4 separate regions of the Homo sapiens genome follow, and all the other regions are linked to region 2. Evidence: fine-mapped expression QTL. A gene starts in region 2. Each other region holds a variant in brackets. All regions are shown on one strand. Distances are between the middles of the regions. Region 1 has its middle 60 kb from the start of LINC01365. Region 2 holds the start of PDE5A (phosphodiesterase 5A). Region 3 overlaps LOC105377397 (a long non-coding RNA gene). Region 4 has its middle 27 kb from the start of PDE5A.

Region 1 (8,111 bases), 120 kb after region 2:
ATTACAGTTTGAATTAGGGATTAGATAACCTTCTGACAGAAAGTAGAACATGATTAGAAAAATGCAGTTTCGGCCCGGTGCGGTGGCTCACGCCTGTAATCCCACCACTTTGGGAGGCCGAGGCAGGCAGATCACGAGGTTAGGAGATCGAGACCATCCTGGCTATCACGGTGAAACCCCGTCTGTACTAAAAATACAAAAAATTAGCCAGGTGTGGTGGTGGGTGCCTGTAGTCTCAGCTACTTGGGAGGCTGAGGCAGGAGAATGGTGTGAACCCGGGAGGCAGAGCTTGCAGTGAGCAGGGATTGCGCCACTGCACTCCAGCCTGGGCGACAGAGCGAGACTCCGTCTCAAAAAAAAAATAAAAATAAAAATGCGGTTTCAAAATATGCCTACAAATTAATACATTTGCTCATAAGAGTTCCTGGAAGAAAACAAAACAAAACAAAACAATACAAAAATAAAGCAAAACAAACAAGAACACCAACAACAGCAACAAAACTCAGAAACTCAATTCATAAATCAGGAGTTGATCAGAGATTTTGGAGGATCCCAGTAAAATTCACATGAGTCGTCAAGGGAAATGCCATTCTATCACTTTTGAAATGACTTTCATTAGCTGCTAGACCAGTGGTTCCCAGTCTTTTTGACACCAGGGACTGGTTTCATGGAAGACAATTTTTGGATGGTTTCAGGATGATTCAAGTGATTACATTTATTTTGCACTTGCACTTTATTTCTATGATTACTACATTATAATATATAATGAAATATTTACACAACTCACCATAATGTAGGATCAGTGTGAGCCCTGAGCTTGTTTTCCTGCAACTAGATGGTCCCATCTCGGGGTGATGTGATGGGAGACAGTGATAGATCATGGGCATTAGATTCCCATAAAGAGCATGCAACCTAGATCCCTCACATGCACAGTTCATAATAGGGTTTACGCTCCTATGAGAATCTAATGCTGCTGCTGATCTGACAGTGGTGGAGCTCAGGTGGTCATGCAAGCGATTAGGAGTGGCTGTAAATACAGATGAAACTTCTCTTGCTTGCCCACCGCTCACCTCCTGCTGTGTGGCCTTGCTTCTAACAGGCCACGGACAGGTAGCAATCTGTGACCTGGGATTTGGGGACCCCTGTGCTAGACATTGATAGTTACTCCTAATTCCTATTTCCAATCTACCTTGGTGGAGCATACTACTCTTCTATGAAGATTCAGAGGAATATGGTGTTACTGTATTCCCATTTCACAGGTAATAAAACTGAGGCATGAAAGATCAATGTGTTTCCCTGGACTTGCACAGTTTCCTGAAGCAAGAATATACAGCTGGGTTGGAGAAGTACTTTCACAGAAGGCTACTTTAAAAAAACGTATAATGCTTTGAAATTCATTAAGCCTATTTGCAATAACTTACATACTTTAGTATTATACAAATATATATGTAAGCTCATTGGAAATTTTGGCTGTTATGAATTAAAATCTAATTTGAATGTGTAAAAATAATTTGTGGGAAGGCTTTGCTTGCTACAACTGAGATTTGCATGTAAAATATCTTTTATTTATAATATACTTTGCTTTATTTTTTCACCTAGTTGTTAAATATTTTGAAATATAATTCTAATGTAAAGTATCATTTCTGTGCCTAGGAAACTATGTGAATACTCTTCCATATGACTTAATTTTGTATTGACTCTGGCTGCTAATTACAGTCTGCTTTCCTCCAGTTAGTGGCCACCAAGATGCTGTTCCAAGATGTTTTAAACTCATGTTTTCACAGTGCCCTCTTTCATGTAATACAGCTATTATATTTTAAAGGTGATTGTCCACTTTAAAAATAAAAGATGCCAAAGTAAATAAATAGGAGACACTACGTTATTTATTCCACTGGATAGGAAAGCTGGAAGAAACTCGTGGGATCATCCAGTTGGGCTCCCAATCCTTTCATTTGTTTTTGTTTTTTTGAAACAGTCTCGCTCTGTCGCCCAGGCTGGAGTGCAGTGGCCAGATCTTGGCTCACTGCAACCTCCCATCTGCCAGGTTCAAGTGATTCTCCTCCTTCAGCCTCCTGAGTAGCTGAGATTACAGGCACCTGCCACCACACTCAGCTATGTATTTTTAGTAGAGATGGGGTTTCACCATGTTGGCCAGGGTGGTCTCAAACTCCTGACCTCAAGTGATCTTCCTGTCTTGGCCTCCCAAAGTGCTGGGGTTACAGGCTTGAGCCACCGCACCTGGCTCCCAGTCCTCTCATTTGTAAAGATAAGGATGCTGAGTCTAGTGAGGTGGAGCAGCTTGCCAAGCCCACACAACTAGTTAAGGCAGAGCCAGCATCGAAGCCCACATCTCTTGGCTCTCAGTCAAGTCCTTTCCACTGTACTAAAGGAGACCATATTTAGAAAAGATTAAAATGCTGAAATTTTCTCTCCACATCTGTATTTTAAAGAAAAGGAAATCTCTAATATGAATTATAGTCACTATTTCCAGTGTTTAACTGAAAAATACTGGAGCTCTGAAAAATTTTCAGGTTTGTCCTTCATAATCTACATGGAAAATAATGAAAAAGCCAACTCCACCTCCCGCTATGAACATACTGCTCACTGTCTGATGTACTGGGTGTACAGCTGCTCTGAGCCTTTCTCTTGAACACCCTTCTATTTATTTTATTGCAAAGTTATTGTGGATTTTGGAATCAACTGAAGTATTTCTTAGTTTACAACAATGTTGTTCAAGGTTCACCATTAAAAATCATAATGGTAAAAATACTAACAGCCCTTTCCTCTATTAGAAATAATTTGAAAAGTACCTTAAGATAATATTTCAGAGGAACATTTCAACTTACAGCATATCTGACATTCGTCATCTTAATGCCTGGAAAAGAATTCTTGTCAAGAAGGAGTTTGTTCTTTTACTAGTAGGAAGTGCATTACTCTAAGTATATATGCTTGCTTCAGCTCTCTGGAGGATCAGAGTAGTAATAATAATATATTTCTTGAGTGCTTACTAACTGCTAATCTCTGGAATAAACCTTTACATGCATTACCTCATTGAATTCTCACAGCTACCTCATGAGATTGTTATTATAATCCCTACTTTACAAGTGAAGTAATTAAAGTTGAAGATCATCAGGTTGATAAATGGCAGTGACTGAAATTTAAGCAATCTCAGTTCAGGCCCTAGCTCTGTGTTAGCATGTGAAGTCTCCTGAGGAAGAGACTGCTTCCCAGGCTCGACATTATTTGGTTAGGGCCTTGGTCAGGAAGGACTTTCTGCATGGAGTAATGACCAGGTTAAGACCTGAAGAGACTACAGTGGTGGAGTACATGGGCAGTAGGCACAGACGGCAGGGGTGAGTGTCTGCTTTGATATTTACTACATCTTTCTCTACGTTTTCATTTCTTTGTGTAATGGGAAATTCTTCATATATCCATAGGTTTGCTGTGAGAATGGGATAAGGTCATCCTTGTAAAGTGCTTTACACAATGGTGGGCACATCATATGCACTCAAAAAAGCTTAGCTATACATATACTTGATTGGTACTAAAGACAAAAATGAAATTTTTAGTCCATTGCCAATTTCTCTATTAATTATTTAGTCCTTACTCAAAAAGTATATTTTTACTGTTATTCTAGTCCTCAAGGGAGCTGAAGCAAGCATATATACTTCTTTCTCAAGAGAAAAGAAGTTCCGAATGGTAATCTGGAGGCTAGGGGTGAGAGAGATTTGCTTTCTGCTTTGAAAAGTCCAGCCTCTCATTGAATCTTACTTGTAGGAAAATGAAGCAGCCAGTCAGCAGGTATTTGTGTAGGATATGATAATAGAAACTACAATAAGATGGAACATAACTTGGATATGGTCCTAGCTCTCAAGAAGCTGAGGAAGAGGCATGCTAGCAAGGGATACCATGGGCAGAAACGTGCACAGTCATTACAGGAGCTCATCATTGAGGATGAGGTGTGGGATTCTGGGCAGAGAGCCGCTGACTCAGAGGAAGTACTTCAGGACAGCTTCCTGGAGATGATCAAATGGTTATTATACGAAAAGATGGGGGAGCCCTATTGAGAGTCAAAGAAGCTGTTCTCTGCACCTAGGATATTTCTGGCAAAATGTCTGGGATAGGAATTACAATGAAAAGACAACAGCAACACAACACAGATCTTTCCTAACACAAATGAAGGCTGGTGGTTAGGGTACAGAATGAAATGATGGAATGAGATGAGAGTGGTTGGATGAAATATAAGCATAGGTTATAGAGTCCTAGAGAATATGGTTTAAACATGACTTGGAGCCAGAAGTAACTAGCAAACAA[C/A]TAGAGATCTAAAGAAGATTTCATGATCAGGCTCTCTCTCTCTCTCTGTCTTTCTCTCTCTCTTGCACCCAATTCCAGGGTTTTATGTTTGGAATACCTCTCTCCCCACTTCTTCCTATTCCCTTCTCCCTCCCTGGACTAATTCATGCAGAGTCTTCAGGTCTCAGCTTTACATCTTCCTTTAGGAATTCATCCCTGACCATAGAGACTGGGTTAGGTATTTTCTTGTAGGTCCTAATGATGGCCTCTGCTTACCTCATCAAATCTGCTTTTGTTTTCTACAGCTGTGTAATAAATTACCACAAACATAACAGCTTTAAGAAACAAACTTTATCCTCTCACAGTTTCTGTGGAGCAGGAGCTCAGAATGCTTTAGCTATGTCCTCTGCTCAGGGTCTTAGAAGGCCAAAAGCAAGATGTTGGCCAGATGAGTCCTCATCTGGAGGCATGACTAGGGAAAGATTTGCTTCCAAGCTCCCTCAGGTTGCTGGCAGAATTCATTTCCTTGCAGCTGTAGGACTGATGTCCCTGTTTTCTTGACAGCTGTTGTCCGGGGCCCACTCTCAGTGCTGGTCCTTGCTGCATGGCCCTCTCTTTAATATGGCAATTTGCTTCTTCAAGGCTAGTGGGAGAATCTCTCTTCTCAACCTTCTATGACAGAGTGACGTTACATAATCACAGGAGTGACTATCCATTACCTTTGTCATATAATGTAACCTAAGCAAGGGAGCAAATATCCTATTATATCCATAAGGCTTGTCCATACATAACAGGAAGAGATTGTACAGGGTATGTATACCAGGGATAGGGGATCTTGAGGGCCCTCTCAGAATTCTGTCTACCACAATATCCTTTGTCACATTGCATTATAGTTGCCAGCTGACTGAGCTCTCAGAGAGACTATATCTTAGTGACCCTTATAGTTTCTGCTTTGCATAGTGCTTAGCAGATACTCTCTTCTTAGTAAAAATTTGTGGAGTCACTTAGTAAGTGTTGACAGGTCAGTTTAGATAGTAGAGAGTATGGAGGCCTGAAGAGGACAGATTTCAATAATTTATACATTTAGTAGAAATAGGTGAAAAGATGCTGTTGAATGGCAATGAAGAACACAGAAACTGAACTAAGTCCAGGGTCCATAAAATCTGTTAATGAAGATAGCTCTGGTGATGGGGAAATTGAGTGCTCTAATTTTGGAGGTAGTGGTTATGTGATGATACTCACTTAGCAATTTTGGTTAATTATATTGCATATGCTGTCGAATGGGTAAGAATGAACAGTTCCCAGTAATTGTGCTAAAGTGTGGAAAGCCGTCATAATCATTGCTTTAAAAAACTGTATATTTAGGCCAGGCACGGTGGCCCATGCCTGTAAAGCCAGCACTTTGGGGGCCAAGGCTGTGGATCCCTTGAGGTCAGGAGTTCAAGACCAGCCTGGGCAACACGGCGAAACCCTGTGTCACTGAAAATACAAAAATTAGCCAGGTGTGGTGGCACACTCCTGTAATCCCAGCTACTCCAGAGGCTAAGGCAGGAGGATCGCTTGAAACCTGGGAGGCAGAGGTTGCAGTGCCAAGATCATGCCACTGCACTCCAGCCACGGCAGCAGAGTGAGACTCTGTCTCAAAAAAAAAAAAAAAAAAAAAAAACTATATATTTATTTGAGCTTTTTCTCTAATCAAAGCACATGGCTAAATCTGTTGGAGGGTGTGTCAGGGCTCAACCAAAAAACTATAGAGAATTTAAACCAGGGAATTGGGTTATGCAAGTGATGGGAACTCTGAGAAACCAAAGAGCGGGCAGTGAGGTTAACCAGAGATTAGCAACACCAGAAAGCCACTATCTTCTGGGGTTACAGAAGGAGGAGGCTGTCATACAGGAGCTTAGGGACCCTAGTTACAGGCAGATCCTGGAACTAGAGTAGGTTGTCCTGAGCAAGAACTGGGATCATAGAGGAGAGTGGGCTGTCTCCAGAGATGCTGGCTGACTCAGAGAGAGGGGAGGAATGCCCTGGCTTCTCCTTCCCTCCTACTCTTCAGTCTTCAACTATTGCCTCCTAGTAATTGAACCCAGCTGAGGCAGTCAATGAGGGAGCAGAGAAAATGCAGGCAGCAGACAGCCGCCCTCTTCCCGGGCATCTCCGAGATTCAGAGCAGAAGATGAGAAATAGACCCATTAGCAAACAAGCTCAGAACCAGCACAAGGACATAAAGATGCATGCCAGGCATCTGTCCTCAAGGGCCTTACATTGTAGAAGAGGAAAGGAGACATGCACGCAGTTAACCATAACACAGGGGAAATCAGCACTTTCTAGAATAGTAATTGATGACTTTTGCAATGGCAGTCTGAGTGGCATCATAATTAAAAACAAACAAAAAACAAAATTGTAGGCATTCAAAATGGAGTTTGTATACGGAATTAAATCAGGTATTAATTGAATTTGTATTTCACATTATAATCAGCAAAAACAAAAAGTAAGTTTTAGAAGAAATTTTGGAATATATGTTTATATGTATGGCTTAATGGAGGAGATTTAAAGATAGGCAACCCAGAAGCTATGAGATAGATACAACTGGTTATACACAATATTTTAAAATTATGACAAAATATATAAAACCATATATAAAGGTAGAATACACATACTAAATTGGGAAAGAATGTTTCTAAGAAATGATACAAAAAGAATCAACACCTATAATGTGTCAACAAAGTAAGAGAAAGACAACCAAATAAAAAAATTAGCAAAAAGTATTGGTAATTCATACAGCAGAGTAAGAGACTATGGTTCAATTTTTGTAAAGCAAAGCATTTTTTTAAAAAAATCCCTCCTTTCTGGTTTATGAAAATGCAGAGAAATATGACAGATGGCATACCTGGCTGGCTTTTTCCATTATTTACTGGAAGGGAGGAGCAGAGGGGTATGGAAGGGAGGACCAGGTCATGGGAGAGACAAGCAAAAGCCAAAGGAGTCAATAAGACAAGTTTGTACAACATATGCAGTGTAAACATGGTCCCATTTATGGGACATCAAGATATTACTTAGCTATTTCTCTGCGTATTTTCTAGATATGGGCAGAAAATTGAATTTGCAGGAACCCAGCTCCTACATCAAATATATGTGCCCTGCATCTGACAGTCTTCTGCAATGGAGATAAATGTGTTTGTTGTTCATGTTTAAAAAACAAACAAACAAAAAACACTAATACTTGCTGAGATAGGAAAAAAGTGGACTGATGTTTCAATTCATTTTGAAGTGCATAAAACAAATAAGATGGATTAATGGATGAAGGGAGGGATTGGTAGATGTGGAATAAAACAAGACAGTTAAGATGTTAATGGTAGAATCTAAGTGCTGATGGTATGGGTCTTCACTGTAAAATTTTTTCAACTTATAAGTATTCAAAAAATTTCATAATAAAATTTTGTGCATTAATTAAGTACAGCAGAACTTAAATTGTATAACAGGGAACTTCAAAAATTTTGTGGAAAAATGGAATTAAAAGGTAAAGGTAAAAAATTTAAACTTTATATCTCAACATAAGCTCCATCAAATTTAAGACACTTGTGTAGGTGATAATATCAGTCATTTAGTTTATCCCTAAAGAACTGAGGGTCCTGGGAATTTAACCATGTCAATGCAGTCTTTTTTATATTATAAACTGAAGAAAAATAAGTGCCTTTTAAAGATTTCTTTTTTTTAAGATTAGGAAACAAAAAGTAGCGAGAAGGAGCCAAACAAGGACTGTAAAGTGGATGTCTAATGATTTCCCACTGAAACTCTCACACAATTGCCCTTGAGAG
Region 2 (8,100 bases):
ACCACATTTTTAGGAATCATGTAGTTTAGGCTCTAACATGGGTCTGAATTTGAAACTTTGAAAACACTAGAGATAGAAGAGCAATGAGAAACATTATTTCAGGGGCTCCTATGGATTTCTCCAGGCAGGAAGAATGCAATCCAGAAGAGTGCTTCAAGGACACTAAAAGCAGCTTAGAGCTGGTTATATGGACCCTGGTTATGAACAACATAAGAAAAAAAGGCCATTATTGCACCAGAATTACCATTATAAAAATACTATAAACAATATCAAAGTTAGACTGGGTCAATGCTCAGAGGGTTTTATTATCATCAACACTAACAACTGCCTCACAAAATATGCTTAACAATTCATTTGTCTGAAAATTGTGGAAAGTTTATATTCCTATATAATTATAGAAACAATAATTTAAAAAAATACATAGCAATATTTATATACATAATCTGATTGTATTGTAAATACCGTGCAATAAAAATGCTACAGCTTTTAGAAGTGAGAGAAGAATTACAAGGAAAAAAAATGAAGGACGGAATTCCAAACACAGGACCAGGAACCTCAATTAATTCAGCACAGCTTTGCAGTATCAAATAAAGTCTATCATAGAAAGCTATATGGGAGTGTAAAACGTCTGTTTCTGGACTTTGATCCAAGCTGTCATAAAAACTTGCCCTCACTTAATATCTCTTATTTCCAGTATATGCCAAATATTCTCGAGCTTTTGCCTGTACAAAACAAAGCAATAAAGTCAATCATGTCATCCTTAACAATATTAAATGACCTAAAACATCACCCACAATCACAGAGCTGATTAGTAATTAATGAAAGGTAACTTTATTCTAATATGCTGTCAAGAATAACAACAGCTGTTAAGCAGCATTAGCACCAGGAAAGCTTCAGTTGTAAAAGGCATACGCATTAAAGCCCTCAATTAACACAGTAGCTGAGGCCTTCAGGACTGCAAATTGTCTACAATAGTGACCTGGGAGTTTTCCAGATGTGATTTATTGGCCTCAAATTAATTTTTATGCCAACCGACTATGTTCTGAATCATTCAATTGACACCTTCAAATGGACATAAACAGGTTGTGATAACTAAAAAGCTCCAAGTTATAGCTTTTTTTTTTTTTTTTTGAGATGGAGTCTCACTCTGTTGCCCAGGCTGGAGTATAGTGGAGCAATCTTGGCTCACTGCAACCTCTGCCTCCCGGGTTCAAGCGATTCTCCTTAGTAGCTGGGATTACAGGCGCGCGCCATACCTGGCTAATTTTTGTATTTTTAGTAGAGACGGGGTTTCACCATGTTGGTCAGTCAGGCTGGTCTTGAACTCCTGACGTCGTGATCTGCCCGCCTCGGCCTCCCAAAGTGCTGGGATTACAGGCATGAGCCACCGTGCCAGGCCCAACCTATAGCTTTTAATAAGATGCGTAGCTCTCTACTTGAAGACAGTGATAGTAAACAATGTAATATAATGGCATAAATGCTTTCAAGGTCAACCCAAATTCACAGGTGTTTGAGAATTTAGGAATGCCAGAACCTTGATGTTCAATAACTACCATTGAGTGTAGATCATTTAGTCTGAGAAAAGGATGGAAAATCATGCATGAATGTCGAATGACAACAATAATGCAGAAATTGTTTTTATCAGCAAGCCTGATTACTGGTGCAGATGGACGATCTGGGTGAATATAAATATATTTTAAATCTTAAAACATGCCGCATGCATCTACAGAACTATTTTGTTTCATGGGTTTCCTGAATCACATACAATATTCATTTTACACTTACAAAGTGTAAAAAGAGGGGAAAAGCAAAGTAATGTGAGCTCCTACTTTTAAAAAAAAAAATCCTTAGCTGTAAAGTTAAAACGTATGCAATAAGTTTTTACCACAAAATGTGAACCACACTGGGGTTAGTGGTTTGCATTTTTATAATCAACAAATGTCCATCCTCTTATTCACATTTTAAGTCTCCTGTTAATGCCACCAAATATAAAACCAAATTGGAATATTGTTTCATGAAAGACCTCTGGCTACACACAAATTCTTAGGTTATATTCTTTACTCTGACAACTCTCAGCACTTTATTATAACTCTTAAAATTGAGGACCTGCACTATTAAATATTTTACACTTTCATTTTCCAACTTACACTCAACATAACCTCTTAAGAATATGTATACACACATACATATATATATCACAGAAAGTGTTCAGCCTGTTGCCAACATCAACTGTAATTTAAAAACTCTAACCGAAAATTTTTTAAAAGTTTTTTTAGAGCCTCAGATGATCTAAATTTTACAGTGAGCATGGTAAATTTGAGAAATAGGATTTTGATCCTATGCTGCTTGGGAGAAAAAGTAATGGGAAAAGAAATGTAACTCAGCTCTTTCCATTTATTTTCCATTAAAATGTTGCTACACTTTCAAAGTGTTGGTAGGTTCTGAAAATGCAGTGTTCCTATCTATGACTAGTCAAAAACGACCAACAAGCCATCCCTAGTTTACATCTTTAAAAGAAAAATAGGGAACGAAGAAAGGACATTTATGCTGATTTATTAAACAATAACTTTTTTTCTTTAAACTGTTTATAATCTGCCTAAAGAACAGGTCCAATACATACTTTTAAAAATCGGCCTGGTTCTCTGGCCCCCTGATCATTCTATGCGCTGTAATTCAAGGAGAGCAGAAGGCTGGGAATGCGCAGAGTGAAAGGAAAGTGGGTGCAGATGGCCTCAGAGGGGCAGGTGACCCCTGAAAACTGTTAGTCGACAGCAACCGATCATTCTAGACCTCCATGGCCTTAGTGTCTCACGCTAAACTCGCAAAAAAGTGCCCTTTCAGGGCTATCCTCTGGGCGCTCAAGATTTAGGATTTTGAAGGAAGAAGGTGAAAGCGGGGGAAGACGATTTTAAAAGAAGGGCTGGGTTATTAAATTGAAAAGATTAATCCCGGAGCCTTCCCCTCTGTCAAAAAACCCTGAAAGTGACTAAATTGACACCAACTCTGGATGTTCCTTAGGAAAAAAACAAAACAAAACAAAACAAAACAAGATTAAAAAGGGCCCAATTTAAGACCCTTATTAATACATCTGCAAGAGAGCAAAGAATAACAACAACAACAAAAGTTATACAGTCAATTTTCAATGATACATCGTCCCACTGGTGCCACCGGGGCGCCACCACCCAGCACCCGAGACCCGCCGCGCCCCCGGAAAAAGTGGGAAGGGACGTAGGGGGATGCTGAAGGAAGTACCTTGTTTTGTCTCCAAAGGGCAACATAGCAAACGTGGGAAGTTCGTTTTCGAACTCCGCCGATCCTGGACTCCAGGAGGCTCCGTAGGGGCAACAACGCGCGCAGGTGAGGTGAGGTGAGGTCGGCGACTCAGAACCAGCTCCCTCACGGCCCCGGCCTCCGCGCCGCCGCCCGTCGCCTCCCGCTCGCCCCGCGCTGCGCCGCCCCCTGGCGGGGAGCGACCGGCAGAGCCGCGGCCGCGCGCCGGCGAGTGGGACCCGGGCGTCGAACCCGGGCGGGCTCCTCGACCATCACTGCCGGGCGTGTGTCACCCTCCCGGCCAAGACGGCCAGCACCCGCTGCCCGACGGCCGCTGCCCAGAGCAGGCGGCAGCGGGGCACGGACTCTTTCTGCAAAGGGGCGCGTCCTGGAGTCCACGCACCCCGACTATGCATCAATTCCTCAGGCTTCGGGGCACCCGCCCGCCAAGCACTCTCTGCTCCACTCTTCTTGTCCCTCTGCTCCCAGTCTCAATTCCTCCCCAACTCTCCCGCGAGCGTTTCCCACGAGCGCCCCGACTGCCCGCTGCGCAGCCGCCTCCAAAAGGACAGGCTCCCTCCTCCCCGCCCTCCGCAAGGGCCGCCCCGGCGCTTGGCTCTGGACCAGAAAGAGCTGGCCTCTGGGGTCTGCGCTGCCCCTTGGGGTCCGCTCCAGGCGGCGCCTCCCCTGCGCCCTTTGTGTGCACGCCGCAAACCCCTCTGCAGAGCTCTACTTTTGGCGGCACAGCCTTCGGCGGAAAAGCGAGTGAAAGGAGGCGCGCGGGACAAGCAGGAGACTGGAAGGGGGGAAAAGGCAACCGCACTCACTTTGGCAAGGTTCCGTCATGTTGCCTTTGGGCTGTCCCGTGGACTCGTCCCTCACCCCAGCTTCCCCGCCCAGCCAGGGCCAGGGCGAGGGGGGACGGGGGAGGAGCGGAGCCATCAAGACCGACTTGGAAATGGTGCTTCCGGAGCTGCAGGGAAGGGGCTCAGAAACTGTTTGGGTTTTGCTGATTGGATTTTGGGGAACCAGAGGGCTAGAGAGGGGCTAGGGGAAGGCCCGTGAGCACGGATGTATGAAAATAATCATGTTCCCGGGGAATACCAAGAGGGTCGGGGGTGAGGGTGGGAGGTCGGCAAGTACATTTTTGTATTTGAACTTTGTGAGCAAGTTGTATCAAATCCGACACTTGAGTTTTTCGACTGTGCTCGCTTAGAGTTGAGGTTTCTACCTCGTAACAGGACCGAGGACCTACTTCAAAAGCAAAGGGCCTGGGAACAGGGGTGAACGAAGGGCACAATTCAACAGGGGAGAGAAATCAGCCCCGGGTCTTCCGTGGGTCCTCTTCTTACCTGGTGGCTTTTCTAACAAAGTATGAGAAGGTAAAGTCCCAGTGATCGTCCAGCCATGCTTCGACCGAGTCCTGATCCCTCTGCTGCTGCTTCTGCTGCTGGGGCTGCTGCTGCTGTCGCTGCTGCCCGAAGCTGGGGCCGGCCCGCTCCATGGTTGGCACCGCGCGCCTCGGAGGCTCTCTGGTACTGCTTTTCCACCCCAGCTGGGGTCCGTCCCTCAGAAGAACAGGACTCGGCCTCGAGACCCTCCCCCTTCGTCCTGCTCCAGTCGGGCCGGCTTTCGACAAAGCGGCCGGAGCGCCAGGCCAGCCTCCTGCCCCGCCCCGCCCCGCGCGGTTCTACGGGCGCCCAGGTGTGGTGGGCGGGGCCAGGCGCAGCTGCTGCGCCCCCCCCACCCGGGGTCCGGCAGTGTTCCGCTCTCGCAGGCTCTTCAGTCCCCTGGTTCCCAGGAGGCGGCGGCGGCGGCGGCAGCGGCAGCGCCCGGCGAGCTCTCCGGAAGCCAAGTGGCGGCGGCTGGAAGGAGGCCGCGCGGCCGCTGGGGTGCGCTGTGTGCCAAGCCGACTTCTGGGGAGCGCGCTAGGTGACTGGGTGTGTTCTCAGAGTGCCCCAGGGAGGGAAGGTCGCGATGTGGGAAGTTTTGCCCGAAAGTAAGAGATGATGAGACCCTGGGCCCTTTTCCTGGGGCCTGGGAGTGCAATGACCTTCCCGCCTAGCTTTTCCCTAGCCCTACGCTTGGGTCTGGGAGGAGCGGGACCGACCTCCTTCAGAGCCCAGCCCGCTCAGTGACTTAAAGCGGTCCAGCCACGGACCACTGCGGGTGGAGAGAGCTGGGGCGTGTGCTAGCAAGAGAGATTTGCAGGTGTAGGTGGGTAACTTGCAACAAAGCCATACCCGTGCTTAATGTTAATGATAACAGCAATAATTATAACTTAAGTGCCTTTAACCATTGCCTCAAACTTCCCTTATGCATAACTGGAAAAAGATTTACTTGGAAAAGAAAAAGCAAACAAATAATTTCCAATGCTTTGTGCATGAAGTTAGAAAACAAGGGCACCTCTGTACAATTAGGTTAATCCGAGAGCACTGGCGCAACCCAGGTGCAGTCGAGGGCAACCAGTTATCCCAATTTTAAATTAATGCATCATTTTAATTAAATTGGAATTAACACTCCCTCAAAAGTATCCATTAAAAATGGCTCAGCCTTTTTGTCCAATCCCTATCTTGCTTCTTTAAAAAAGGAATTGGTGTCATCCTTTGCTTTGTCTGCATCCCCATCTTCCTGTCATGCATTGGCAGTTTTAATATGGCATTTTGCAATGACCTATATTTTTTGGTAGAATTAAATCTGGAATTATGGGTTGCACAATGTGTGAATGACACCATTAGCAGTGATATAAAAAAAAATGAGTTAGCTGATATACTTCTGACAACTTCCTTCTAAATACTCTTGGCAAGAATTTAAGGCATTATTCACTACATAGAAACACATCATTAAATTGATAATCTGAGAACTTTTAAAAGTATCTTCTAGTCCCCCAATGCAATGGTTTATCTTTCCTTCATTGAGTAATTGACCTTTTGCGACTTCAGTTTTTCTGAAACTTTACTGCTGTATGCAGGTAGCCACAACCAAAGAAAAGCAATCAAAGCAGTAGAGTATGAACTAATGGGTGATAAATTATATTGGATTTAGAAATGAGAATTCTCTCCTAATGTGTTACTATGATAGTGATTATAGTGCTCATGGAATACAGTCATGCGTCACCGAACAACAGGATACATTCTGAGAAATGTATCCTTAGGCAATTTCATCCTTCTCTGAACATCACAGTGTACTAACACAAAATAGATGGCTCAGCCTACTACACACTTAGGCTATTGCTCCTAGACCACAAATCTATACAGCATATTACTGTACTGAATACTGTAGGCAATTGTAATGCAATGATATTTGTGTGTCTAAACATATCTAAACATAGAAAAGGTACAGTAAAAATATAGTATTATCTTATGGGACTCATATATGTGGTCTGTCGTTGACTGAAAAGTGGCACATTACTGTGGAAAGTTTCTCCTCAGTACAGTTTTTTCTTGTGGAAATCCATGCATTCCTCCTAACAGGAGATCAATCGTAATTTAAAACTCTGCTTATCTACTAAAGATGCAGTGAATTTGGGGCTTGAATTATTTGCTTTTGTTGGATACTTGATTAAATAAACACGTATAATCATTTCAATGTTTGTATTCCCTCCAAAATTCATGTTGAAACTTAATCCCTAATTCAACAGTATTAAGAGGAGGTGCCTTTAAGTGGTGATTAGACCATTAGGGCTCTGCCTTTGTGAATGCATTAGTGCCTTTTTAAAAAAAGGCCCAAAGGAGACAGTTGGCCCCTTCTATTCTTTCCACTATGTGAAGACACAGCACTGACCCTTGCTGAGGATGCAGCAACAAGGTGCCATTTTGTAAGCAAAGAGCAGCCCTCACCAGTTGCCAAATCTGCTGGCACTTTGATTTTGGAGTTTCCAGCCTCCAGAACTGAGAGAAATTAATTTCTATTGTTTATAAATATCCCAGTCTGTGATATTTTATTACAGCAACACAAATGGACTAAGACAGTGGGTAATATCAAAATGTTCATTTTTCTCTCCTAACCTGAAAGGGTTAAATTATCAGAAACCAGGAAGGTTTCTGAAAAATTGCTTCAAGAAAAACAATCTATAGGCTGGGCACAGTGGCTCATTCCTGTAATCTCAGAACTTTGGGAGGGAGAGGTAGAAGGATACTTGAGCTCAGGAGTTTGAACCAGCCTGGGCCACATGGCATGACCCCATCTCTACACAAAATTTTTAAAAATTAGCCAGGCATGGGGGAACACACCTGTAATCCTAGTTATTCGAGAGGCTGAGGCAAGAGGATTGAGCCCAGGAGGTCAAGGCTGCAGTGAGCCATGATCGTGCCATTGCACTTCAGCCTCAGTGACAGTGTAAGACCCCCGGCTCTATAACAAAAAAGAAAAAAAAAGAAAAACAGTACATAGATTCTCTCAATAGTGAATCTCAAGTCTGTGTGGTATATATGATAGTTTGGGAGTTACTGTGAAGGCCTATTACCTGAGAAACATATCACAAGGGATTGGGGAACAGAAGTGTCTCAAACAGTTCTAGTCTCTGGGAGATTCAGCCAAAATGTGTAACTATACCTCCTGTAAATTTAAAGTAGTTAAAGGTAAGCATATTTTGAACTGACATTACCTGGGCCTCTTGTTTTTCAACTCCATTTTATTCTTTATCCCAATTTGCCCAATTATTTTGTTTTAACTTGGCATGAATTGTTCTAAGCACCTCAAATCTTGTTATGGAATTAGTTGAAGAATAAGTAAATCATAAACACTCCCAGGATATAACTTGAAAAATGCTGTTAATGCTATTTATAACAAACAAATGAGCAATGATGTATGTATGTGTATATGTATGAT
Region 3 (8,111 bases), 69 kb after region 2:
TTCCACAGGCTGCAAAAATAACCCTCCAGAGTTGTAAGCCACAAAAATGACCCCTCACCAAACACATCTTAGTCCATTCCTATGTAAACTAGGGAAGTATGTCATTCTTTTGTAGAATCTATATCTATAGTATTAAAAATAAACTGGGTTAGTGACTTAATTCTTGTTCAATGATTCCTTTATTTTCCAATGTTATTTACAATTTTCAATACAATGGCATGCTTGCTTTCTTGAAATAAAGCTGAAATAAAATAACTGTAACAATTTTTTTAGTGCAAAATTTCAAATGTCCATTCTATTAACTGAGACAATAGAGGTCAAAGTCACATCAGGAATTAAACATATCTTTCTCCATTTATTCCCAGGAATGAAAGAGAGAGAACAGATCAGTGTTCAGTTTGAAAGAGCCATAATTCAGCAGTCTTTCTACATTACCTCTCAGAAGAAGGAGCCTGCATGTCTAAAGAGAGAAGTGAAGTTTAAGTACTGGAAAAAAGGAAAGTCTTCAGCCTTGGGAATGTAATAACCTGGGGTCAGCTGAGAACCCTGAGGAGGACTGACCCAATCAGCTGCTGGGAGAAGCAACATAACTGTTCTGCTGGAGGGAGAAACAAATTCTAATCAGATGTGAACCAACTATCCAGGGAGCTTCTGTTGTCATGAGAAAAGGAAGTGCTCTTCCTTTCAACTGGAAAACTAGAATGTACCACTTTTTTTTTTTTTTTGTTAATGCTCCCTCTTTTCTTTTTTTATTAGCTTTGTAATAAAAATTTAATTTAAAAGTTGATATGCAAACAAGTGTGTAACAATCTGAATATTTAACATTGATAGATCTATTTTAGAAAATTAAAGTGAATATATCTGAGTTTTAGAGTTTAATGTTTACTGCACACAGGATGAAACAGAAACTAAACTTTGTTACATTTTTAAAAAATTCTTTAACTTCAGTTGGATTTACTATTTGTAAAGTGAAAAGAAACTCTTTTTCTCCAAAATTTTTGTCCTTTACTGAGTGACTTTAGAAAATTGATTTCACTATTCCAAGTTTTAGTTTTTTATTCAGAAATTAAGAAATATGTCAGTATGTGTCTATTATTACTATAGATCGCTTCTTGGCCTTTTGGCTAAGATCAAGTGTATTATTATTATAGAATGGGTTCTCAGATAAAGAAAAAACTAAGAATTTTCTCAGATTTTTGGGAGTATTTCATTATAAAAACAAAAACTATGTAAGATTAAATTGATATTACCTTTTCAATGGACTCACTTGAAAAAGAGTTACAAGATGCAATTTGAGGAGTTTTACGGGCCAATGTTAAGGCTAGGCGTACATTTTCTATTTTGAAATCTCTGGTATCTTTGTGGTACCCAGAATATGTAGTGAGGTAAATAGATATCACCTTAAGAAACAGAAAAAAGAAAGAATAAAAAGAAACACCTTCTATTTCTCAATGCTTATTAACTAAAAATGCAAAATTTATTCACATTTTTCAATAGAGGGGTCATATGGTTTGACACATCAAATACCATATAAATAGTGGTAACACCAAACAGAGGCTTGAGGGCCTCTTTTAGTGCCCTGCCTCTTCCTACAGCCGCTCCACAAGATTTCATAATACTTTTTCCATGTAGACAACTGACATTTTCTCAGTTATATAAAAATTATCTTTTGAAACACTTCTATTTTCATTGATCTGTGAGTTGTGGTCTAATTAAAAACAGGTAAGACACGTTCCTGAACTTTCCCACCCTCTACTTTCTTCTGCCCCTAAATTTCTCCATGTGAACATGAGATTCCAGCAAATACTTCAATGAATACGGAAACATAAATTTGAGTGTTTATTGTCTTCAAAGAAAGCAAAAAGAATAGTGCCAGTGTATTATAAAGACTCATACTTTCACGCAAACAAACTCCTTACTGAAGGAAAAGGGACAAAGATCATTTCTGGAGAACGGAAAGACTCAAATAATTTTATCGTCCATGTTCCACAGACGATTGAGATGAAGTCATATCATTATAACTAAGCTTTTATTCTATCATTTTTATATGTATGTTTCATAGAAAAGCTATATGAGAAAATACAGAAATGAGGGGGATTGTCTGTGTTATTATTATTTTTTAAAAATTCTCGAATTGGCGGCCAGGCGTGGTAGCTCACGCCTGTAATCTCAGCACTTTGGGAGGCCGAGGTGGGCGGATCACCTGAAGTCGGAAGTTTGAGACCAGTCTGACCAACATGGAGAAACCCCGTCTCTACTAAAAATACAAAATTAACCAGGTGCGGTGGTGCATGTCAGCAATCCCAACTACTCAGGAGGCTGAGGCAGGAGAATAGCTTGAACCCAGGAGGTGAAGGTTGCAGTGAGCTGAGATTGTGCCATTGCACTTTAGCCTAGGCAACAAGAGTGAAACTCCATCTCAAAAAAAAAAAAAAATTATTGAATTGGCTTGGGTTTTGACAGTTTCTATCCACCACTGACTTCTATACATCTAAACCTCACACATGCAGCCTGGCCAACATAGTAAGACCCTGTCTCTACAAAAATAATTTTTTTTTTTTAATTAGCCAAGGATGGTTGTGCACACCTATAATCCTAGCTACTTGGGAGGCTGAGGCAGGAGGAGTGCTTCAGCCCGGTGAAATAGAATTGCACCACCACACTCCAGTCCATGATCACACCACTATCATCCAGCTTGGTCATAGAGCAAAACTCTGTCTCTAAGAAATAAAATAAATACATGAATGAATAAACAAACAAAACTCACACATATCGGGACTAGAGGAAAAACAGAGTACATTTTTTGATCTCAGAGACTGGTAGATAGGAGTAATTAAGCAGATATTAGCCTAAGGAAATACTCTGTTTAAAATTTTCTTTTACAGTTATTTGACAAGAAATCTTAGAGTCCTCACTTTCTGGGAGCTCAGAGAAAGGTAAAAGCCTTAGCTGAATTTTAATCTTTCAATCGTGTCCTTATTGTGAGAAATGACACAACTGAGGTTGAAATGCCCATCTGAGATATCCCTTGAGATACAGCTTTAGTTCTGTTTCATCAAAAGCATATTAAGAAGTCACAATGTGTAAAACATTGTAGTTTGGGGATGGATAGAAAGAGGAATTAGACATGGCCTCTGGTTTAAAAGGAGATTTTAATCTGGTGAGGAGACTGATTGGAGAGAGTATACAATCAGATTTAGGGAGTGAATGAAATAGAAGTTGTGGGGAAAATGCTGAAAGTGGTCTAAGTAGCCAAGGCTGCAATTGTGGTTCTGATAGGCAAAGTGTTATTGTTGGGGATGTCTTTTAATCCCTCTCTTTGCTGAGTGCCCTAGGAGCTACACTGCCTAGGTCTGAGGGGGATACTTGTAAATAAATCCCATCTGAATTGGGAATCAAGAGCACCCATTAGTCTGCACAAATATCAAGTATTTTTACAACATCTATAGTCTCAGTGGTTCTTAAACCTTGCAACTGTGTGTATCTTTTAGAAAATGTAAATAAACTAAGATCTTTTCTCATAGAAGTGGACAAAAAAAAAAAAAAGCACACGAACAAATTCAAGGACTTCTTCCTAAAGTCCTTAGGCAAATCATCTAATCTCTCTGTGTCTCAGTTTCTCAATCTGTAAAATAAGAGTGATAATACCTGCTTTATTAAGTAGTGGGGAGAATTAAATGGGAGAATTATATAAAGTGTCTAGCACAGATCCCAGGGCAAATGTGCAATAAATGACAGCCATTATTATATTCTTTCTTTCTTCCTTTTTACTATGAGACTATGCTGTTTCCTTAACTGTGACTGATCCTATCACAGAGACAAGGCTGGGGAGTCAAATAAGGGACTGGTCACCAAGTAAGGCAAATGAAATAAAGGGGATAGATGAGATTCATGCCCAGGCAAAAATATGATAGAATAAGGAAATCTGAAAACTTTTACAGGAAGTCATCTGGGGAAATGACTAGGAGAATATGTAAAATAACAATGAAGATGCTGTTTTAACTGTAGCTATATTGTGAATTTAATATAATGCTAATGCTAATGGTATTAATTTCAAAATCGATGGCAAATGCACACTTATGAAGAGCTTATTATATGCCAGGCATTGTGCTTAGCTTGGCTTACATAGGTCACCTTTTTAAATTCTCATAATATAAAATAATACAGCCCCAAATACCCCATCTGAAATTCTAAAATAAAAAGCCTCTGAAAACTTACATTTTGCAATGATTGATTCAGTAGCAAAACCTGAACTGAACTGCCAGAGGGTGTTTTTAGTCTTTATTTATCTCACTTAGAGTGAATATTCATGCATTTTGAGGCAAAAATCTTAATATTTGGTCATGGTGTTTTCTGTGACCTCACTGGGGTAATACTCCATAATTCCATGTGGACTCTATCCCTTGTGTACAATAGTCCAAATTCCAAAATTCACCTTGCCACCAGGATTTCTGATAAGGTAGGGTGGGCCTTTGAAAACAGTAACATTTATTGATAATTTGCTGTGTACTAGGCTTTGGTTCAAGTCTTATGT[T/G]TATTTATTTTATCCCCATAATAATCTTCAGAGGAAAATATACTTATCATCTTTCCTGCTTTACAGTTGAGGTACAGAGAGGTCAGGGAACCCAGGGTTACCAGACAGTAACTCAGAAACATAGAATTTGAACCCAGGCCATCTGCATCTGGGAAGATTTTGCTGAAATACTATACATAATACTTCATTTATATTATTGTAATTGTTATCCTTACTTTATAGCTGAAAATGCTGAGGATTAAAGATCCACTAATTTAACCAAGATAAAGTGTCTGTGTGATCTTGAGCAAGTTACTTAATCTCTCTGGGCCTCAGCTTTCCATTCTGTAAAATGAGGGTAACGATAACCCATACTGCATTGTTGTGGGGATTAAATGAGTTTAAAGCAATGAGAGCAGTGCCTGACATACCTCACGTAATCTATGCATCTTAGATCTTACTACTTTTTACAACTAGGCCATGTGAATGCTAGGAGAAAAGAGAAGGATATGATGGAAGTCAATCCTCATGCAAAGATTTACTATAGAAAAGGTAAAAAATAATATTTTTCAGGTATTAAATCAGTGTTTTCTTTATTTTTTGTTCCTTAGTCCGTAGGTGTATGGTAGCTGCCTCATTTGTTGAATCAATCACCTGGTGAATGGCATGTATTGATTCAGGGTGAGGGTAGATACAGAACAAACAGGTCTTTTATTCTTCTCTGAGTCCCCAGGCTGACATTTTTTAATCGATTGCAAGACTAGTCATAAAGCTACTCTTTGTTAAAGAACAAAAGCGTTTTATGAATCCCCCATATTTCCCTTTACATTCAAAAGCGTGGGCTTGGTTCTTTCAAGTCTTAGAGTATTGTATTTACATGACGCTAAAGCATAAAGAAAACTGAGACTATATTGCAGGGGAAGTTTCTTTATGACAAGAAAGGAGAATTCCCTTTCACTAAGGGAAGTAGAATTTAGAAACTAGAGAAAGAGAATGGGAGAGTTATAGTTATGAGTGACTTGACTCACCTATTTGGATACTAGTGCCCTTGGGAGAGAGAAGGGGGAATGTGGTAAACTCTTTAGCAAAGCCCTGCATTTAGACTGGTGTTGGTACTATGTAGCCTCTAGGCAGAAGAGCAATGCCTGAGGAAGTGTTTCAAGGCCACCAGAAAGAATTCTGCATTCTATGTCATGGTGAGGAAAATCAGCTGATGGCTGCAGGGTCACCCACAAGGGTGGTAATCAGTAGAGCAGACAAAAGATTTAGATAATCAGTAGAGCAGACAAAAGCCACTATAGGGACTTTAGAACTAGGGAGCATGACAAGATCCAGAGGCATCCACAGATGACATCTCAAAAACACAGGACAGGACCAGACTAGTCAGACCTCAGAAGGCACTGGTGTAGGATATCCAAGATGAGAGAGGGAAGGGAAAATCCCAGCAAAAGACAGCGCATGGACCAAAGGTCTCTCTCTTTGCTACCATGCTGACTGGGACCCCAATGTCAGTTATAGAGGAAAGAGAGTTAGGAGAGACTCTGTAGTGGTGGAGAAACAGTTGTGACTAATTTATGTTGACTGGTTTCCTCCCCCAAATATTTTAAAATCAAAACAACCTCAGTTATTATAATTTTACTTGGTCAATTTTATTCACTTTGCTGGCTAGTAGAAGGAATTGGACTCCAGAGATTATGAGATCAAATAATAAATGCTTTTTATTATTTTTACAGCTGAAGGTACATTTCAATTTTATTTTTATATTTCAAAAGTATGACAGGATTTTCTTTTTTTGTATTATACTTTAAGTTCTGGGATACATGTGCAGAACATGCAGGTTTGTTACATAAGTATACACGTACCATGGTGGTTTGCTGCACTCATCAACCAATCACCTACATTAGGAATTTCTCTGAATGCTATCCTTTCCCTAGTCCCCTACCCCCTGACAGGCCCTGGTGTGTGATGTTCCCCTTCCTGTGTCCATGTGTTCTCATTGTTCAACTCCCACTTATGAGTGAGAACATGCGGTGTTTGGTTTTCTCTTCCTGTGTTAGTTTGCTGAGAATGATGGTTTCCAGCTTCATCCATGTCCCTGCAAAGGACATGAACTCATCCTTTTTTATGGCTGCATAGTATTCCATGGTGTATATGTACCACATATGGGCATTTGGGTTGGTTCCAAGTCTTTGCTATTGTGAATAGTGCTGCAATAAACACACGTGTGCATGTGTCTTTATAGTAGAATGATTTATAATCCTTTGGGTATATACCCAGTAATGGGACTGCTGGGTCAAATGGAATTTCTGGTTCTAGATCCTTGAGGAATTGCCACACTGTCTTCCACAATGGTTGAACTAATTTACACTCCCACCAACAGTGTAAAAGCGTTCCTATTTCTCCACATCCTCTCCAGCATCTGTTGTTTCCTGACTTTTTAATGACTGCCATTCTAACTGGTGTGAGATGGTATCTCATTGTGGTTTTGATTTGAATTTCTCTAATGACCAGTGATGATGAACTTTTTTTCATACATTTCTTGGCCACATAAATGTCTTCTTTTGAGAAGTGTCTGTTCATATCTTTTGTCCACTTTTTGATGGGGTTTTTTTTTCTTGTAAATTTGTTTAAGTTCCTTGTAGATTCTGGACATTAACCCTTTGTCAGATGGATAGATTGCAAAAATTTTCTCCCATTTTGTAGGTTGCCTGTTCACTCTGATGACAGTTTTGCTGTGCAGAAGTTCTTTAGTTTAATTAGATCTCATTTGTCAATTTTGGCTTTTGTTGCCATCACTTTTGGTGTTTTAGTCATGAAGTCTTTGCCCATGCCTATGAGTATGACAGGATTTTCTAAAATGAAACTCCATTCTAAATTATGTCAGAGTTTGGCCACGGGAGATAATGGGGATACATAATCACCCTTCATCCATAAACAACTAGAAAACTAGACAAAGTTGAGGAAATAACTGTTTTATGATACTTGATAGTAGGTAGCATGAGACGGTGAACCTTGAGGAAAGAGAAACAAATGAGTTGAGCCATACCTTTGCCCAGACTTTCTACCTGCAGTTAATTTCCATTGCAGCATGCACTAGGAAGAGAAATCCAAACAAAGCTTGGTGATGTCAGTGAGTTGAGGAGAGAGAAATAGGCATCTGGGGAAGGTAAGGCAGTTAGGATTTGTGGAGCAGATTACTGAGAAGGAAGAAGTTATGCAGAAAAAGTGTTCCAGGAAGCTTCATAGGAATTCCATTGAGTCTTCGGCTGAATGTCAATCTACAAAGACATCACTGGATGTGAGCAATTTCAGAGAGAGAAACAACTATGAAGGAGCTGTAAGCTGAACAATCCCTGGAGCTTACAAAGGTCTGGGAATCATCTGAATTCCCACAAGCCAAAGTGAAGAGACTTTCATGAATATATGATGCATGTAGCAGAAACCTAGAAGAACCTCTCATTAAAAGTGAGGCTAAAAGAGCACTACAGTAAAGGTTATCTAGATCCACACTAAAAGATATAACAAAACACAGCACCCTAAAATGTAAAACTACAATGTACAACATCCAGGAAAAAAATTCCTCCATATGTGAAGAAGC
Region 4 (8,111 bases), 27 kb after region 2:
TCTGCATCAATAGGCATTTCCCAAAAGTTGCTTATCTTTTATTGAGGGAACACTTTTTATTTTTTATTTATTTATTTTTTTTGTGACAGAGTCTTGCTCTGTCACCCAGGGTGGAGTGCAGTGGTGCAATCTTGGCTCACTGCAACCTCTGCCTCCCAGGTTCAAATGATTCTCCTTCCTCAGCCTCCTGCATAGCTGGGATTACAGGTATGCGCCACCACACCTGGCTAATTTTTGTATTTTTAGTAGAGACAAGGTTTCACCATGTTGGTTAGGCTGGTCTCTAACTCCTGACCTTGTGATCAGCCCACCTCAGCCTCCCAAAGTGCTGGGATTACAGGCGTGAGCCACCGCACCTGGCCTGTTGAGGGAATACTTTATGTCAGACATGGCCCTAAGATTTTACACACCTCATCTCATTTAAACTTTCCCACATTCAGTAAGGTAGATTTTCTTTCCATTTTATAAATGAGGAAGTAGGTTTACAGAGCTTAAGAATTTCTTCTAGATGTTTATGAGGATGATCTCTAATCATATAATGGGTTGTATAAACATCAATTAAGGTCACACAAATCAAGTGACAAGTGAAGTATGAATACTACTAGTAGGATGCTTAAATGTAGCTAGTCTAGGGACAAAATCAAAATATAATATAAATAGAAGATGTAATGTAACAACAATTTGAATATCTCTTATTTTGCGACAATAAATCACTCATTCCTATTAGCAAGTAGCTCAGCATATCCATCTTAAACTCCACCTCCTCTACCAATTTAACATGAATCATACATGTGTCAAACATGTATAATAGATGTATTTAAAAACGCCCAGTATTATGCATTAAATATAGGAAGTGCTTGTTAAAGTTTGGTTGAATAAAGGTTAGCAAATATATACTTTGAAATGCACAGTAACAAATAGGGGAAACAAATGGAATGTTTGATACCATTTCCAAAGTTACAGACTGATTTAAAAAATAGTTGCTACAGAATGACTGACCTGGTATGTATCCCCTTTCAAAAAAAGTTTAAAAGCACCCCATGAACTTGAAAGATGGAATTGCAAAAAGTCTCCCAACTCTGAGTCATTCTACAGCTACAGAATAAAAATCCTTTATGTATGGAAGAGTATTGCTTTTGATTTTTGGAGGGCTACATTTTACATGTGACCACCAATCACCATTTGACATAGACATTTCTGCTCTCTACTGGCATTCATTATTTTCCTTCATCTAACAATATCCAGGCCTTATGCAGGTATCTTCTACTGTCTCACACCTCACATGGGCCTAAGGAGGACCTGACTTCACTGCTGGATCCAGGGATGACTTTGCTGTATCTAAGGCTAAGTTCATTCCTAGAGCCAGTGATTGGTACAGAAGATGATGTGTGACCCAATTAATAATATTAGGGTGGATTTTCAAAGGATTCTTTGAGAAGCATTCATCATTGTAATGAGAGAGATTCTCAGTGTGACCCTCTTCTTCGAACATTGTCAGGATCCTTCTATAGCTGTTTTGCTACTACCCTGAACATGAAGCTTCTATTAAGAACAGAGAAATGAGCTAGAACCACAGAATAAAATCACCTGCCCTCCTTCTCTTCTTCCAGAAGTAAAATATTTCCAGTCTCTCTTCTAGACGAGAAGCCAATTAATACCTGATTGTTTAGGCTAGTTTGAGTTGGGCTTTCTGTTATTTGTAGGTGAAACTATTCTAACCGATACACCATCCACATTTTATTCTAATCAACAGTTCTGCTGTAAATATAACTCTGGTGTTGAGTCAATACAACACATTAAAAAAAGACAGGCCTGACTCATGGTATCAAAATGGTAGGACTGTCTTGCAAACCCAGAAGTTTATACATAGGGGCCTGCCAAGTCAAATACAGCCCTTCTGAAGACCACATTAGTTTAAAAACTTAGCAATTCAAATATGCCTGTGCATCTGAAGTCATCAAGTTCTAGTTCCCTAACATTGTATATTGTATGTTTTGTGAAATTATATGTATCCTGTGATAGCAGGAAACTCAAGTAATAATTTATTTGGCAAAGAAAAGTGAAGAGTGAAGATGGGTACATAATTTATGTATGAATTCCTGTATAACCTTTGCATATTTTAACACCATATGGAATTACTACAATTTTTTTAAAAAGGCTTAAAAGATTTTAAAAAGCCAACAAATTAAGCCAAGACCACAAATTACTTTTAATGCACTTTTAAAGACCACTGGAATCACAGCCATTAAAATTTATTTCAATTAGGAATGATACTTTTTAAGCTCAAAAACAACATTTGACCCTTAAGTAGATGATGAAAATATACATAATTTAAAAAAGATATTCTGAATTTAAATGATCACAGAGCTATCAATATGGGGTTTCAAATTGAGACTATCTTAAGCAATTAACCTAAAATGCCATGTGCATTTTGTTCAAAGACCTAGCAGGGAAGAGCAATTAGCAATTTGTGAATTATCATTTTATTTATATTTATATTCCAAAAGTAAGCTCATGCCTTGAATATACTATAGAGTATAAAATAGGAACCTAATTTACTTAAAAACTTTAAAAGTTTTTATCTGTTAAATGATTACTTATGGCCTATAATCAAGTTACTATATATATTTTTTAAAGCAATTTTTGGGCCAGGTGCAGTGGCTCAAACCTGTAATCCCAGCTACTCAGGAGGCTGAGGTAGGAGGATTGCTTGGCATTCAAGACCAGCTTGGACAACATAGTGAGATCCCCATCTCTTAAAAAATATATTAAAAGCTTGGTAGGCTAAGGCAGGAGAATCACTTGAGCCCAGGAGTTTAAGCCTGAAGTGAGCTATGATTGGTCACAGCACTCCAGCTTGGGCAACAGAGTGAGACCGCCATCTCAAAAATGAAACAAAAAGCAATTAGTTTTTATGTCTTCTTAAGTTTGCTTATTTTCCATCCCAACTAGTATTCATGGCGTATTTATTTGGAGTAAAGTGGTAAAAACTAATCCCGCTCTTATGAAAGCTAGAATATTGGCTTTTGGAATTCCAGAGAGATTTCGTCTTAATATTTTGCATTTACTAAAATAAACAATAAATTTATCTTTTAAATAATTCAATAAAAAGTAGGACATCCAATCTGTTGGTCAGAATTTTTTCACTGTGTTGTCCCTGATGAATCTTATAGCAACTGTTTTCCAACTCATCCTTGAACTCATAGTTCATTATGTTAAACATTTATTACATCATGTGAAATAGCTACAATGTTGAAACCAAATTAGCAGATATTTATTGACTATCACTATATACAAAGTGCTTTATTTAAATACAATTATTTTCCCTGTTGGACTTAAAAGCCCAGATTATTTAAGCCACATTATCCCCTTATAAAAGGTAGAAACAGCATCCAAACCTTTTAATTTAAAGGAAACCTAATTATTAACTGTAAAGAAAATGTAGTTGCAAAACAAGTCAGTAAAAACCTGAATAGGTATGATAATCGTATCCACTATTAAGTTTAAATTTAAGAGATAAAATATCTCCTAAATGCCTTTTGAAATCCAAATCACCTTGCTTGTTCAAGCCTTTCCCAGTATCTAGTAAAAATGTGACTCTATTCAGATAGATTTATCCCGTATATTATTATTATGATTTTACAAAAGCTAAAGGATTTAGAATTTATAAAACTGTTTTTGCTGCTTTAGGACCCAAACGGGCAATGTTCTAGAAGGGCAGGTAAGTCATTTATTGAGAATAATTCAACTATTCATAGGATCCATAATGTTTTTTTAAGATTTATTCATCTATTTGTGTATTCATTGATGAAGAATTTTGAATACTTCCTATCTAAAATCGTCATTATTTAAAAGCGATTTGTGAAAATATACTATTACTGGGAAGATAGCTATTAGACTATTTATTTTCCATTCATTTTGCAAGGAAGTGTATCCCTCTGAGCTTGTTTGATTTGGATATGTATCCCTAAAATAAATATTGCTATGATGGCTTCCTGTTTAACGTCAGGCTAGTCAACTGACCATAGAAATCCTGCAGTTGTATTAGAAGTTCCTTCACATGGATTCCCATGTAAATGCTTTCATTATTTGGTATGTTAAAACCAACTGCTTCCACCTATATTCAAACTTTTATAGCGTTTTGTTCTTACACTTACAAAGAGACTAGAACTACTTTACAAAGATAATACTATTATTTTTAAATAATGATACTATGTCCCATTTAGATCAACATTTAACATATGCCACATTAATTTTGAGATGGATATTAAATTAGCTATTCTGGTTTCCTGGTTCTTGGCAAGTTATTTATGACTCTCTTTTTTCCTTATCTGCAAAAT[T/C]ACATTCCCCCAAATCTATTACCCTTCCTACAGCTGGACCCACATGCTCTGCCTTTCCTGCCATTCTAGGGGATAAGCATGGCTCTTGCCTCTCTGCTTGTGTACCAGGTCCTGTTCCTCCTTAATTTCTGTGAGCCTTTGCTGATCCCCTGCCTCTTCTGTATAATCACACTTTATTTCATCCCCAAAGCATCAATACATGCTGTGATACCTTCCAATCTTTTATATATATATGTATGTGTGTGTGTATATTACACGTAATATATATTATATATATTTATTTATATTTATAAAGAGCCCTCCCTCCACTCCACATCCCACCTCAGCTTTGCCCATTTTTCTGCTCCCCCTTTATGGTAGAATTCCCTGTTTTCTCTTTTCTTCTCCTCCTCATTCTCTGCCTGGGTCTTTTACCTGAACCTCCTTGATTTTTTTAAGCAATATTTCTACAAAATGTTTCAAAACAAATATCTTTCTATACCTGTCAGTTTGTAGAATTTTAATAAAATCTTACATAATCTTATCTGGATATGTAAATCCCATTTAAGCAAAATTGGAGTCCAGCTATCTATTTACCCATCTATGTAACTTTTTACATATTCTTTTTAAGGTATTTGCCAAATTTATTTTACTCTCTCACAGAACTCTCTCTCTGGAACTCACTGCAGTTAGGCTTTCTTCCCTTCCACTCCACAGAAAAGCACTCTTTAAGGTCACAAATGACCTCTGTCTTGCCACATCCAGCATAAAATTCTCAGTCCTCATCTAACTTGACCTATCAGCAGCATTTGGCACAGCTGACCATCCCTTCACCATTTTCTTCATTTGGTTTTCAAATCACTACACTGATCTGCTTTGAGCCCTATTTCACTGGCTGCCTTGTCTGTCTTTGTTGCTTGAGCTGCCTCTGCCTCCTGACCAGGACTCAGTCTTCAGCTCCCTTCTCTCTATTCATACTTATTTTCTGGCAATCTCATCTCTGAGCTGAAAACTCCCAACATAATATGTCCAGACAATGTTGAGAAAAATGGATTTTTATTTCTCATTGTGATATACAAACAATTAGAAAAGATTTGATAGCACCTCTTTTGATTCCATATTCCTCCCCTCACCCTGTCTGCTATCCTTGGAAGCAAATATGATTTTTATATGCTCATTTATTTGACAAATACTTATTGAGAAATATGTGCCATCTCTGTACTGTCTTACCTCTAATCTGGGCTTCTGATGGTTTCTGTCCTTTTTTCTGTTTTTCCTGGGCAACCTCATTCATTCCCACTACTTGAGGTATATTCTAAACCCTCTCAAATTCATATCTCCAGCCCAGACTTTCTTCACTGAACTGCAAACTCAAAGCTCTGCCTTCTAGGTTTCTTATACCTGGAACAGACACCTCAAATTCCATATTAAAGTTTAAATGCAATTTGATTACAAATTCAAAAAACACAAACAAACCTTGTTCTTCCTGCCTAAGTCAGAGATGAGTCATTCTCAATTCCTCCTCTTTCCCCAGTTCACATGCCTTTCTAAGTACCTCTGTAGCTGGTCACCTTATCTTTATTCCACTTCATCATTTCCTTGCCTTAACCATTTATTCTCTAAGGATCTCCTGGACTCCATTCTTGGATTCCTCCAATTCTTGCCCTACATTTCTGCCAGCATAATCTATCTAAATTGAAATCTGAATATTTCACATCCTTGAACAATATCTTTGATGACTCTATCTCCCATGAGGGAGGTTATGGTTGCTTTCATTGTAAGAATAATACCTCTTAACCCTCATCAGCTTGTCTGCAAAAGCTCTTATGTTCTGGCCCAACAGAAAGACTTGCAGATCTATGAAGCTGAAATGCTCTTCCAGATCTCTGTCTTGCATGTGTTACCACAACTTGAAATGCTTGGCCTTCACCTTGTGTGTCTGGTGAATATGCATTCTTTCATCAAGACTCAGATGAAATTATACTATCTTTGATGCTTCTTAAGCCCTGATGCCACTCAGATGTACATCCTCTCTCCTCTGTTATCATACCTTGTATAGATCTCTTTATTTATTTCCATGTATCTCATGTCATGTCATTATTTGTCTGTATGTCTGCCTACTCCACTGGACAGGAAAATTTATACAGGAAGAAACCATGTATTATGAAGCTTATAATTTTAGCATTTTTATTTTTATTTCATCTTTTCTACAGAACAGGGAACAGCTGATGTGCACTATCCTTTTGATGGATATTTTATAAGCTGAAGAAGTTTAGATTATAAGACAAAATTTCTTTTTCTAAAAGATAATAGTTATTTTTCTAAAATTAGTTACTTCCCACATATACAAGTTTTTCTGTTAAATTGAAATATAATTCATATACCACAAAATTCACCTTTTTAAAGTGTATGATTAAGGCTGGGTGTGGTGGTCCACACTTACAATCCCAGCTCTTTGGGAGGCTGAGGTGGGTGGATCACTTGAGGTAAGGAGTTCGAGACAAGCCTGGCCAACATGAAGAAACCCTGTCTCTACAAAAAATACAAAAATTAGCCAGGCATAGTGGGGCATGCCTGTAGTCCCAGTTACTCTGGAGGCTGAGGCACAAGAATCACTCGAACCCGGTGGAGGTTGCAGTGAGCCGAGATCACGCCACTGCACTCCAACCTGGGTACTCTGTCTCAAAAATAAACAAACAAACAACAAACAAATAAAGTATATAATTTAATGGTTTTTAGTATATTCTAAAACAAAATCATGCAACCATCACCGCTATCCAATTTCAGAACATTTTCATTACTTTCAAAATAAATCCTGACCCATTTAGTTGTCACTTCCCACTGCCTCCCATGCAGCCCAACTAATCGACTTTCTGTCTTAATAGTTTGCTTATTTTGGACATTTAATATAAATGAAATTATACAATATGTAGCCTTTTGTGTCTGGTTTCTTTCATTCAATATAATGTTTTCAAGGTTCATCTATGTAGTAACATGTATTATTTCTTTTTAGGACTGAGTAGTATTTCATCATAAGAGCATACCACATTTTGTTTATTCATTCTTCAATTGATTTTTCCACTTTTTGGCTATTATGAATAATGCTGCTATGAACATTCATGTGCAGGTTTTTGTGTAAACATATATTTTAAATTTTCTTGTATATTTAGGAGTAGAATTGCTGGGTCATATGACAAATCTATGTTTAACTTTTTGAGGAACCACCAAATCATTTTCCATAATGATCACACTATTTTACATTCCCACAAGCAATGTATGAGGGTTCCAATTTCTCTACATCCTTGCCAACACTTGTTATGGTCCATCTTCTAAATTATAGCTGTCTTAGTATGAACTGATATCTTATTGTGGTTATACAGGATTTGATAGCATCCTCCCATAAAAGGGTTATAAAAAGTTCCATTCTCTCTAAAATCAGCAAGTGAATATTTCATTTTATATTATGCTGAAATAAGTGGGAGTTACACATTTCAGAAAACAGAACAATCCTTTTTCTTATCTAAGCATCTTTAATGTTTCATAGAGCTTGTCATATTTTAAATTATTTCTTATTCTTCCTAAGATTGTCACTTATATTTCAATTTTTTTTTTGCAGTATAAGCCTCCCAAATGCAAACTTCTGAATTAAGATTTAACCTATGTTAATTTAGAGGGGAAAATATTTTCTAGCTTTCATCTTCCCATCCATCCTACTTGTAAGTGTTATATGACAGTATATAGTTAGCGATGGGGATAACACAGTTAATTTATAGTCCCTTGTGACTCTTTAGA

Evidence for each region.
Region 1: its variant is fine-mapped to the expression of PDE5A in whole blood (TOPMed, PIP above 0.99).
Region 3: its variant is fine-mapped to the expression of PDE5A in whole blood (TOPMed, PIP above 0.99).
Region 4: its variant is fine-mapped to the expression of PDE5A in whole blood (INTERVAL, PIP above 0.99).

Annotation. Positions count from the first base shown.
Region 1 is chr4:119,740,804-119,748,914 of GRCh38, forward strand. No RefSeq gene overlaps it. Among named protein-coding and RNA genes, the nearest start is that of LINC01365, 60 kb to the right of the region's middle. The variant C/A (reference allele first, on the strand shown) is at 4,315.
Region 2 is chr4:119,623,898-119,631,997 of GRCh38, forward strand. It overlaps PDE5A (phosphodiesterase 5A), which reads right to left and starts at 4,907. Exons shown (of 21, transcript NM_001083.4): 1 at 4,623-4,907. The coding sequence starts at 4,774. LOC107986192 (a long non-coding RNA gene) reads left to right here and starts at 3,893. Exons shown (of 1, transcript NR_165235.1): 1 at 3,893-6,858. RefSeq lists silencers at 3,341-3,620, 4,841-5,240 and an enhancer at 3,751-3,800.
Region 3 is chr4:119,692,745-119,700,855 of GRCh38, forward strand. LOC105377397 (a long non-coding RNA gene) reads left to right here. Exons shown (of 3, transcript XR_939161.4): 3 at 366-785. It also overlaps the pseudogene LOC124900920. Among named protein-coding and RNA genes, the nearest start is that of PDE5A, 68 kb to the left of the region's middle. The variant T/G (reference allele first, on the strand shown) is at 4,535.
Region 4 is chr4:119,651,323-119,659,433 of GRCh38, forward strand. No RefSeq gene overlaps it. Among named protein-coding and RNA genes, the nearest start is that of PDE5A, 27 kb to the left of the region's middle. The variant T/C (reference allele first, on the strand shown) is at 4,341.